2 separate regions of the Homo sapiens genome follow, and region 2 is linked to region 1. Evidence: fine-mapped expression QTL. A gene starts in region 1. The other region holds a variant in brackets. All regions are shown on one strand. Distances are between the middles of the regions. Region 1 holds the start of SYN2 (synapsin II). Region 2 overlaps SYN2 (synapsin II).

Region 1 (5,377 bases):
ATAGGATAAGAAATCAGGACAAGGTACAGAAGGGTCAAATTCCTGCACAGAAAAATAAAGCACGAATGTCATTCTCATTTCTCCTCTTCCTTTTCTTGGCCTTTCTTCAAGATTCATCTTTTGTGAAGCTTTCTCCAATAACTCTGGCTCTCACTAACCACTCCATTTGTTGACTGCCTGAAACACTAGTCTCAACCAATAATTCTAGATTTCTTTTTAACTGTTTCATGTATCCACTTTGTGTCCCAATTTGAGTGAGTTCTCTTAAAAGGCCCCCACACTGCCTAGAGGGAGCTTGTTATTAATATTGCTAATAATAATAGTGAGGCAATATAACACAGTGGAATGAAAGCAGTGGAGTCAAACAGGCCTAAGTTCAAATCCTGCTTCTACCACTTGCTGGCTACATGATTGTAAACATATTACTTACCTTTCCTAAGCCTCAGTTTTGTGAAGAAAATGCAATGAGATATCATGCTGAGAGTACAGCATTTGGCATATAATGGATGCTCTGACTGAGCACCTTTACTAGCTTGGTTACCTTCCCTTCCTCCGTAATAAGCACTTGTTGATATGAACTGAGTCAGAGTAATTCTAAGGAGGGCTGCCAGTGGCACTATCATATGCATTACACTTTCCCCATTACCCTCTTCCATGTGCCTTTGTCATTTCCTGGCAAAAGTCCTTTCGGATTTTCTACTCTACTCTCTTGAAAAGGCCAACCACATAAGTCACCCAAAGGACTATTCAGAATGGTGACATTAGCAGCCAGCAGGAGGGCATCTCCACATCTGCATCTCATTTCCACCACACCCACACGCCAGCACTCCCTCCCTCTGGGTCTCCCAAAGAGAGAATGCTAGAGAGAGAAAGCAGTGAAGCAGCCAAAAGAGGAAATGGAGAGAAATAGCTCTGTGGTCTCTCTGTGCACCCCTCCTGGGAAGAACACTCAGGTCCAGTCTCCAACCTCAACCCCTATGAGAAAAAAAAAAAAACAAAACCCTTGCTCACATTCCTGGAGAAAAGGCACCCCCAGATTCTCGGCCTCTTCATTTCTCCAAGCCCTTCACCTATCAATTTCACCATCCCACCATTCCCTAGGTTAACTATAAAATAGAGCCGCTTTTAACTAATTTGTCTTCAGTGGACCTCATTCGTACTTTTACCAAGCAGCAGCCTTCACCATTCTAAGTTGGAAACATGCTACCTATCTCTTTAGAAGAAAAAAAAAATTATTGAAGTTTCCCATCTACTACATTAAGGCAGGTCTCCTTTTATTTGTACCCCTTTAATGATCCAGTATATTTTACCAAGGTCTTCATCTTTCAGCTAGAAAAAGCTACCATTCACTTCCACGCCCCGCCCCCCACCACGCACATTTCAGAAAAACAAGCAATCAAAAAAAAAAAAAAAAAATTCCACACGTCCCCTCCCTGCTGCACAAAATACAACAATTTTATTATTCATAAAGAGACTTCAGCCATGCTCCGGGGAACAAGCCCGTGTACACCTGGGCCACTACATGTGTGATTTCATCAACCTGATGTCAATACTTGATATCAGCCTTCATGGGTCCTGGTTAAAAAAAACCCACCACCACCTTCTCCCTCCAAAATACCAATTTCCATTCCAAATTCACTCCGTGCTTCATGAAGTTAAACCTTTTTTACTGGCCCTAAATGTTCCTTCGGCCTCCTGGGACTATTTCACTTCAGATTTTATGTGTCTAAGCTAACAAGTGTGTCCCCTCCTCTACCCCCAAAAAAACTATTTCCTAAGGGCCTTTCCTGTTGCATAAAGTAGCTCCTTCTTGTATGGGACCTGGGGGACCTGGGGCAATTGAGGGGTATTTTAGCTTTGGGTTCGCCTTTCCGGGCTGATGGATGCCCTCCCTCACCCCGCAAACGCGCGCGCGCTCAGCCCGCACCTCCTCCCAGCGGGACCTCGGGGACCCTCCTTTTTATTGGTCTGAAACGTTTCCTCGGCGACCTGGGACCGTCCTCTCCTGGCCTGCGGCTGCCGGCGGACCCCGACCCCCGAGGGCGGCGGCGCCCGGCACCTACCAGTCGGCGTGCGGCTCGTCGACCACCAGCAGCACCTTGGCCTTCCTGGCGGCTGCGGGCGCGGGAGCGGGCGCGTCCACCAGGCCAGCCGAGGCGGCCGTCTGCTTCACGGCTTGGGACAGCGAGCTGAAGAAGCTGCTGCCCACCGACGGCGTCGGCGCGGGCTGCGGCGCGGGCGCCGAGGCGGGCGGCGGCCTCCGCTCCGGGCCCGGCGAGGCGGTCGGGGGCGCCGCCGAGGCCGAGGCGGCGCCCGGACCGGGGGGCGGCGGCGGCGGCGGCTGCTGGGGCTCGGGCCGCTGCAGGTCGGTCATGTAGCCGTTGGGCAGGTTGGCGATGAAGCTGCTGTCCGACAGCCGGCGCCGCAGGAAGTTCATCATCTGGCTTAAAGGGCTGGGGGCGCGCGGGGCTACGGGGTCTGGTGGCGCGGAGGGAGAGCGAGGGCGGAAGGCGAGATTGAGGCGACTGAGGCGGCTGAGGCGGCGGCTTAGCCAGCAGAGACTCAGGCCCCGGCACCAGACCCCGCAGACAGCAGCGGCGGTCTGGGCCAGGCAACCCGCGCGGCGCGAGGCTCGCGGAGAGGGAGCGGGCGGGGCAGGGGCGGGGCCAGAGATAGCCCCCGCCCCGCGCCGCAGAGGCGGCCCCGCCCCGCTCACGGAGGGCACCTAGCCGCGCGTCTGGCGACTCTCGGGGCTTGCAGGAGGGGGCGACCCAGGCCTCCAGCAACCTGAGCGTGACTATGCGGGGAGGGCGTGGGAGCCAGGCCTTCTCCCCAGGGGAAGGAAAAGGAACCAGAGGCCCCACCATCTTTTTGGTTGGAGAGAAAAAGAGCCGTGTCCCAGCTGAAATGGAGGCGAAGGAAACCGACCCCACTCCTTTTGGAAGGATAAGAGGTGTCAGCCTCCCTATGCGGAGGTGAGAACGAAAGGAGTCATCCCAATCACGCGCGCACACACGCACACAAGCACGAACACCCTGTAGTGAGGAGGAAAAGAACCACCTCCTTTCCCAACGCTGGGGAGAAAGATGTCATCTCCCCAGCCCCCAGAAGAGGGGGAAGGGAATAATCCGCTGTTACTAACACACACACACACACACGCGCGCGCGCGCGCGCACACACACACACACACACACACACACACACACACACACCCTATGGTGAGACAAAAAAGAAATACCTCTTCTAGGGAGGAAGGCAGCCTCCTTACTCCAAGGCGAGGGAGAGGAAAGGGGAGAAACAGATCCTCTCTACTCTGTCATGGAAGGAGGGGTGGGGTGTGTTTTCACTCCTGCACTTCTAGGGACAACAACAGTATGTACTTCTCTCCCCCTCCTCACTGACCAGTGAGAGAAAACCAAGAGAAGACTGGAGACATGGTCTCCACCCCAAGAGGGATATCTAAGGATCCCCCAACCCCACCGTGTTTCTTTCCTAGCATGCATTGATGCATCCAGTGCTATACCAAGAAGGACATCTCTTCAAGATCTTTCTACTTGTTTTTTCCATTTTATTCGTTGCCTTGACCTCTGTGAAGACATTTCTGATGGCCACCTTCCCATGTGCACTCTCTAAATCTTGCGTGACTCTTGGACCTTTAGTTTTCATCTCTCATTAGATATACTTTCCCTTGTGTTGTAATGGAGCAGGACACAGCAGATAGGCTTTACAGCAGACTACCCCGGGTGATATGTGACCCTGGATCAATAACCCCTGTGAGCCTCTCTCCTTAGCTGATAAAAAGGAATAAGTAACCCTTTCCAGAGTTGTTACATGGAGTAAATGAGATCATGTATGTAAAGCATCTGGTACACAGCAGTAGGTATTCCAGTAGTGATGCCTGAATTCTTTTTTCAATTGGTTCTCAGTAAGTATGTACTGGGCTGAATGGAGTCAGGGAGTGGCTTGTCACTAATGTTGGTGGGCAGTTCTTGCTTCCTGTATCCCAGCTGGCACTCAACTCAGGGCCTAGAGATACACAATCCAGCTCTGAGCCGGTGCTATCAGAGAAGTCTCCAGTCAACTATAATAACACAGTGGTCTTCCTATCTACTACATGCTTGGCACAGTGGTAAGAGCTGGAAAGGCTGAAATGAATGGGAAGTGGCTCTTGTCTATTGCAAGTTCATGATCTATGTGGGCTGGGGGATGGAGGGAGGATAGACACAGGAACCACATAAGATGTGAGAAATGCTATCATACAGTTGGGCAAAGAGGGTTAGGAGGCCTAAGGAGGGAGGGACTCATTCTGCCTCTGAGACTTAGGAAGGCCTCTCAGAGGAGGTGACATTTGAGGTGGATCTTGAGGCAGCTATGTTTACCAGTAGAAAAGTGAAGAAGGCAGGCAGGCAGGCAGCCAGAGAAGGCATGGAGAAGGTATGTAAGTTGATGGTTCCTCCAGGAAGCCTTTCGTCAATCCTCCAGGGCGGGCTAAGTGTTCCATATCCTGTGCTTGGCTTTGTCATAGACCCCAAAGAAACTATCATACAATATTCTGGTGACTAGAATGTAAGCTTTTCTAGGACAGGATTATGTCTTAGTTATCTTTGGGCTTCACACCAAACACAGGACCTGGCATGTAATAAGGACTCAGTTGTTTGAGAATTGAACTGTAATCTTACCCAACTCGGTTTTTGTGTTTATTGGAGAATAAAACTGATAAGTCACTAATAACATAATTAAATAAACTTAATTATTGCCCTTCTTAAAAAAAAATTTTTTTTTTGAGATGGAGTTTCGCTCTTATTGCCCAGGCTGGAGTGCAATGGCACGATCTCAGCTCACCACAGCCTCCGCCTCCCGGGTTCAAGCATTTCTCCTGCCTCAGCCTCCTGAGTAGCTGGGATTACATGCATGCACCACCATGCCCAGCTAATTTTGTATTTTTAGTAGAGATGGGGTTTCTCCATGTTGGTCAGGCTGGTCTCAAACTCCCGACCTCAGGTGATCTGCCCGCCTCAGCCTCCCGAAGTGCTGGGATTACAGGCATGAGCCACCACGTCCGGCCATCAAAGGCATGTATCTCTAATGAAGGGATTTCAGACACTGTGTCACTTCAATTTTGGGGGTGATAGGTTTTTTAAAATAATATTTCAGTAAGTAATTTCCCCAACCGTTAAGCTTATAGTATATGCATATATTTTTAAAATCAACCAATTAACAGACGTGTTTTCATGCCTAATACATGCAAGCCATTATGCTAGGGACAGGAGGGTAAAGGAGATTCAGGGATGAATGAAACCCAAGTTCTTAAGAAGACAGCTCATAAACATGTGAACACATAACTAGCAATAGCAGAGCAGCCTGTGAGTGACCTGAA
Region 2 (5,377 bases), 140 kb before region 1:
ATATGCCCACTTGACCGTCTTATTGGAAACTGCACACAGTGAGGAAATGCAGCTTGTTCAATGACAAGTGGCAGAGCCAGGGCTGGGACTCAAAAGCAGTGAGATCTGATTGTTGGTCCAGAAGTTTGTTATTCTCTCAGCTTGATTAAACTGCCCTTACTCCTGTTTTTCCCTATTCTATCTCCAGAATTTGACAAGAGGCTGTCAGCTAAAATCTAGTTATTCCAGCCGCATAAGCTCTATAGTTCAACCCCAGTGGAGTCTTTGGGGTTGAGATGCTGAGGCCCTTTTCAGAGCCCCACAATAACCAGGTGGCTAAGTGCAAAATGAAAACAGCAGAAAGACTAATGTCCCCACTGAGCCACTTACCATCTCTTTGTGGTTGGGGTAGTATGTCTGTTCAATGAGAGGGAACTTTTCTCCTCCCAGTGTCTTATAGATAGCGACCAGCTGGGCAAACTGCAAAAGAAAAGCAAATGTTACAGCTTATCTTAGATAACTTCTGAAACAGATGAAACATCAACTCATCAAATATTTATTGAGCATTTGCTCTGTGGAGGACTTTATGCTAAGCATTGTGAGGATATAAAAGAAGTGTACAATTCCTATTTCCAAGGATATGATACGCATTAGTTGGGGAAGGGAAAGAGAGTGAGCTAAAATTCAATTACCTTTCTCAATTGTAATGATGTTTCAAATCAAATTGATGAACTAGTATTTTATCATATTCATTTTACATATGGGGCCCAGAGAGGATACAAAACTTGCCTATAGTCACAGAACTGCAAGGTGAAGCTGGGATCAAAAATTGGGTCTCTGACTTTCCACACCTGCATCTCTGAGTGATCGCAAGGCATGAAGCTGGATAGGTGACATGGGCCAAGTCTTGGAAGTTCAAACGTCAGGCAAAGGAATGATGGATTTTTCCAGTAAGCAGTATGGAATCACCAAGAATTTGAGCAGGAGGCATCATAAAATGAAGCTGTTCTTCAGGAAGATTAGAATGGTCATGGTATGTGGGATAGACAGGCCCAGTCTTTCTGGGACTTACTACCTAACGAGGGACTGAACTTACTGGACCCTTTGCCTACATATGAGAAACTGGAATAGCTCCATGGGGAAGGGGCAAAGTACACATACTTACAGTGTCAGGGTTGAAAGGCTTTCTTAGTGCACACCTGGGCTCCCCCACCCCGCTCCATCTTATAAATGAAGAAGCTGAGGCCCAGAGAGGTCACTTGCCCAAAGTCACACAGTAGTTGAGCCAGGTTCACAGCAAGGCCCCTTCATTTCCAATCCATAACTCTCCTTATTCCTGCAAGTAGCTGCCTTTCAGGCTCTGTAGAAACTATGCCCTTTCCACAGGAAATACAGGACTTTCCTGCTCAATCCAGTCACATACACACCTACACTCCCATCCCCAGTGCATCAGCAGCAGAGGAAACACATCTCTCTAGGGCTACTGGATTAGTTCACACTCGAAGCCACTGGTATCTGGCATGGCTAGAAGGGAAAGCTGCTAGATGAAATCTATTTATCAGAGAAAGGAAGGCTAGAACATTTTTCAACAGCTCAGGTCCTGTTCTCTACAAGCGATACTGGCACATAAGCCAGGGAGGGGAGACGAGGTTGGGGCAGTAAAAGCTCGGAACTGGGTTGTTAGAAAACTGGAATCTTCTGATTCTTGTTCTGTTAACTTCCTAGGTGTCCTTGGGCAAATGAGTTTTCCTCTCTGGATCTCATTTTCTTCATATATAAAATGAGATGGTTAAATTTGATCAGTTCCTCAAACTTTGTACCATAAAGAATATCTCTTTATTATATTTCCTCCCAAACTCTGCTATCAAACTGTAGTTTAAGTGATCATCTGTTGTGGTCCTTTTGTAGGTATAGATATGATTTTGTTATTTTTGAAATGCTGGAAAACACTGGAATTCCTAGGTCCCTCCCTTTAGTGACAAACAATTGGTGACTCTAGAGCTCTAGGGCCTCCTCCAGGACTGAAAGGATGATTCATGGACCCTCAAGCCCCTAAGATACCATTGTCAAAAGGGACTTTATAGAGTCTCTAGGCCAGCCCTCTGATTTGACAAATTGAGATTGAGGCTGGAGAGCAAAGGAAAGTGCAGGCTCCCGGATCACATCCTGGAGTCAGGGCTGCACTGCAAGAGCACTCAGGTCTCTTCTCCTTGCTGGGTGCATTCACCATTGTACCCTGCTGTCCTCACCGACTTTGGTCCTTCAATTTGCTTTAACTGTCAAGAACGAACCCTCAGACCTTTCCTGCCTTCTCTGATTCTCCACACCTGCTCATCTGACCTTTACGTCCTGCCTGCCCATCTGGGCCTGGCTGGACTTCTGCTCTGCCTCTGGACACCTGCCTGTGCTCCTAAGGCTCTCCAGCATCCCTAGGGAGTTAATGCCAGCTCTGCCAAACGACCTCTGTCCTGCTGCAGCCCACGCTCTGGCATGGCACCAAGACATGTGGGGCCCTACCTTTCCAGCATGTGGGGGAGTTACACAGACACCACACAGATGCCAGGACAGCCTGTGGCAGACTCCCAGAGCCCTGGGACAGCCAACACAATAATGGCAGCCAGTTCCCAGGCTCTCGTTGGGTCTCAGGGAGCTCACCCCACCCTCCTCTCCAGCAGTCCCTGTCTGCTCAAGGTAGTGAGCTTGGCATCTAACCCATAGCTCCCTGGAAACTTAGATTAAATCACAGCCACACAGTCACCAATTAAACAAATGTAACATCTGATAAGGGCTGTTACCTCTACACATAGACAAAAGAATGAATTTGGGAGCTGGGGGTGCTGTTGGCAATTAATAGGAAGATATGTCCATTATAGCCACTCATCCAATGAATCAAGAAAGATTTCTTGGAAAAAAATGGGATTCCAGATCCATTTGAGTAATGTGTCCCTATGCCTATCACTCCTGGAAATTAAATGATTTAATTTAACTCTGGTGCACTTATCTCCAAAAACCCAGAAAGACTCACGGAATTTCAGATAGACTGGCAGCAATAAACGGTGGTGCCATTCTTGCTTTGTCTGGAATGCTGCTTTCATTGACAGGTCCACTTCTGCTCCCCAAATCCCAGTGGCTTGCCCTGACCAACTTCAGAGACAGCAATGTGCTCAGAGACACAGCTGTGCAAGGCAGAGCCTTTTCCAACCCAATCAAAGTATCTCCTCACACCAACAGCAGTCATAGTAAAGATA[T/C]TGAGAAACACAACCCAAAGTCATCAGCTGAAAGGGACCCTCCCCTCACAGTCACCAAATTTGTCCACTCCCATGAACTAGCAGAGAACAATATGTAAAACGTCATTCATGTGGCAGCTGCTTTGTGAAACTGAAGGGAGAACTTGGGGTCTGGCCAGGGAGCCCTGCTGTTCTCCTCATGCAGGGCCCAAGGCAATGTGCTCAGATTGTGAATGGGTGAGAGTGTGACCCCTCACCAGATCCCAGATCCCGGGAGGAGCAAAGCCCTAGCCACAGGCTCTCCCCATTCTTCCTGCCCTGGCCTCTGGCACAGTTTAGGAAAAGAAAACAGGGAACACATTTCTTTTTTTTTTTTGAGACAGAGTCTCGCTCTGTCGCCCAGGCTGGAGTACAGTGGTGCGATCTTGGCTCATTGCAAGCTCCGCCTCCCGGGTTCACGCCATTCTCCCGCCTCAGCCACCTAAGTTGCTGGGACTACAGGCACCTGCCACCACACCCGGCTAATTTTTTTTGTATTTTTAGTAGAGACGGGTTTCTCTGTGTTAGTTAGGATGGTCTTGATCTCCTGACCTCGTGATGTGCCTGCCTCAGCCTCCCAAAGTGCTGGGATTACAGGCGTGAGCCACCACGTCTGGCCACAAATTTCTTTAAGAGAACCCATACACTAGGAGCCTGTAACAACCAGGCTGTCAAAGTGGTGGCAGGTGCTACTATTATTCCCAGTTTGTAGATGAAGAAACTGGGGCACAGGTTCGGTCAGAGAGTTGATAAGCAGTGAAATCACCCAGAAAAAGCTGCTAATAGCAGGATCACCCTGTGTGGCTAGGAGAGAGTCAAATTCTGACAAGTACCGGGGGTGCACGTGGGTTAGGACACGTGTGCCGTAGGAAGGACATGTGACTGAGGAGAAAGGGGAGGTCCACAAAAAAGACACTTGGTAAAGGTCTCACATATGCTCTTCTGTGATTGGCAACATACTAAAATCACACTCTGTTAGCGTGTTTCTGCAGAATCTAGGATTCCAGATGCCTCAGGCCACGCAGAAGGAAAGGCTGAACAAGTGGAGCTTGGGAACCCAACCCCCTCCTTAACCATGGCAGCTCCCAGCCCTCCTGACTACTTGTCCATTGATCTTTTTCTTACACTCCAAGCTCTCCCTGGCTTCAAAAGGAAAAAGAAAGCTGTTAGTTCCAGGGTGAAAAAAAAGATCAAGATCAGAAGTGACAGATCTGTTTGGTTAACACACACACATACACACACACATACACACACACACACACCCCTCTTCAGCTCTCTGAGTGGTGTAAAGGCGTGGAAACTTCACAATTAGACACAAGTTCCAGGAACCTTGGCAATCCAGGGCGTGTGACAGCTGAAATTTCATTTTTACAAAACAAGAAGGGCTTACTGCATCTTGGGGTCCAGAAGTCCCTCCTAGGGGCCTGGAAGATGCAGGGTCTGGATCCTAGCCTTTTACCTGGGGGAAGGGGGCCTCACTTTCCACCCATGGCTTGTCACAGAAGTTATAAATGGATTCCAGTGAGTTGATGCAGGGGAGGCCTGCATACTGCAAGCCAATGAGGATGTGATTAGGGGTAGGTGTTACCTTCTGAGAGGGCCAGCCTGAAGTAGCAGAGCCAGCAGAGGAGCTGGGTCCCCTCAGTGGTCGGAGGGGAAGCCAGAGTGCCCCCAAAGCCATCATAAGTCACTCTCCCTCCTAGCCCCACTTTTTCTATCTGCCTAAAAGTTTCCACTGCCCTCCTAGATTTCCAAATTGGCCAAGGAAGAGAAAACCAGAACAGTTTCCTCCTTATATAGGAGCCTCAATCTATGGGAGAGGCAGTGGGATGTAGAGAAATCCTGGCACTGTAACTTTGGCAAGTTACTTAATCCTTTTTGGGTTTTGTTTCTCTGTAAAAAGTGACAATAATGATATCTTCCTTGTAAGGTGAGGATTAAATGAAATTAACAGAAAAATCTCAGAAACTGGCATCCTATAGTAAGTAGTTTTCTACACCTTACTTTCCTTCTTTAATTTTCATATCTCTATCATGAAAGGTTAAGGTCAGAATTAGGGTTAGGCTTTGATGATCTCCAAGACACTTCTAGCTCATAAGTATTTGATTCACATGCATGAGGATAAATTTCAT

What was found. PIP is the estimated chance that this variant, and not a neighbour inherited with it, causes the effect.
Region 2: its variant is the best candidate, but not a certain one, in a credible set for the expression of SYN2 in esophagus mucosa (GTEx, PIP 0.69).

The regions. Positions count from the first base shown.
Region 1 is chr3:12,001,615-12,006,991 of GRCh38, reverse strand. It overlaps SYN2 (synapsin II), which reads right to left and starts at 2,604. Exons shown (of 13, transcript NM_133625.6): 1 at 2,064-2,604. The coding sequence starts at 2,440. RefSeq lists an enhancer at 1,405-1,905.
Region 2 is chr3:12,146,319-12,151,695 of GRCh38, reverse strand. It overlaps SYN2 (synapsin II), which reads right to left. Exons shown (of 13, transcript NM_133625.6): 5 at 370-459. Among named protein-coding and RNA genes, the nearest start is that of TIMP4, 9.9 kb to the left of the region's middle. The variant T/C (reference allele first, on the strand shown) is at 3,228.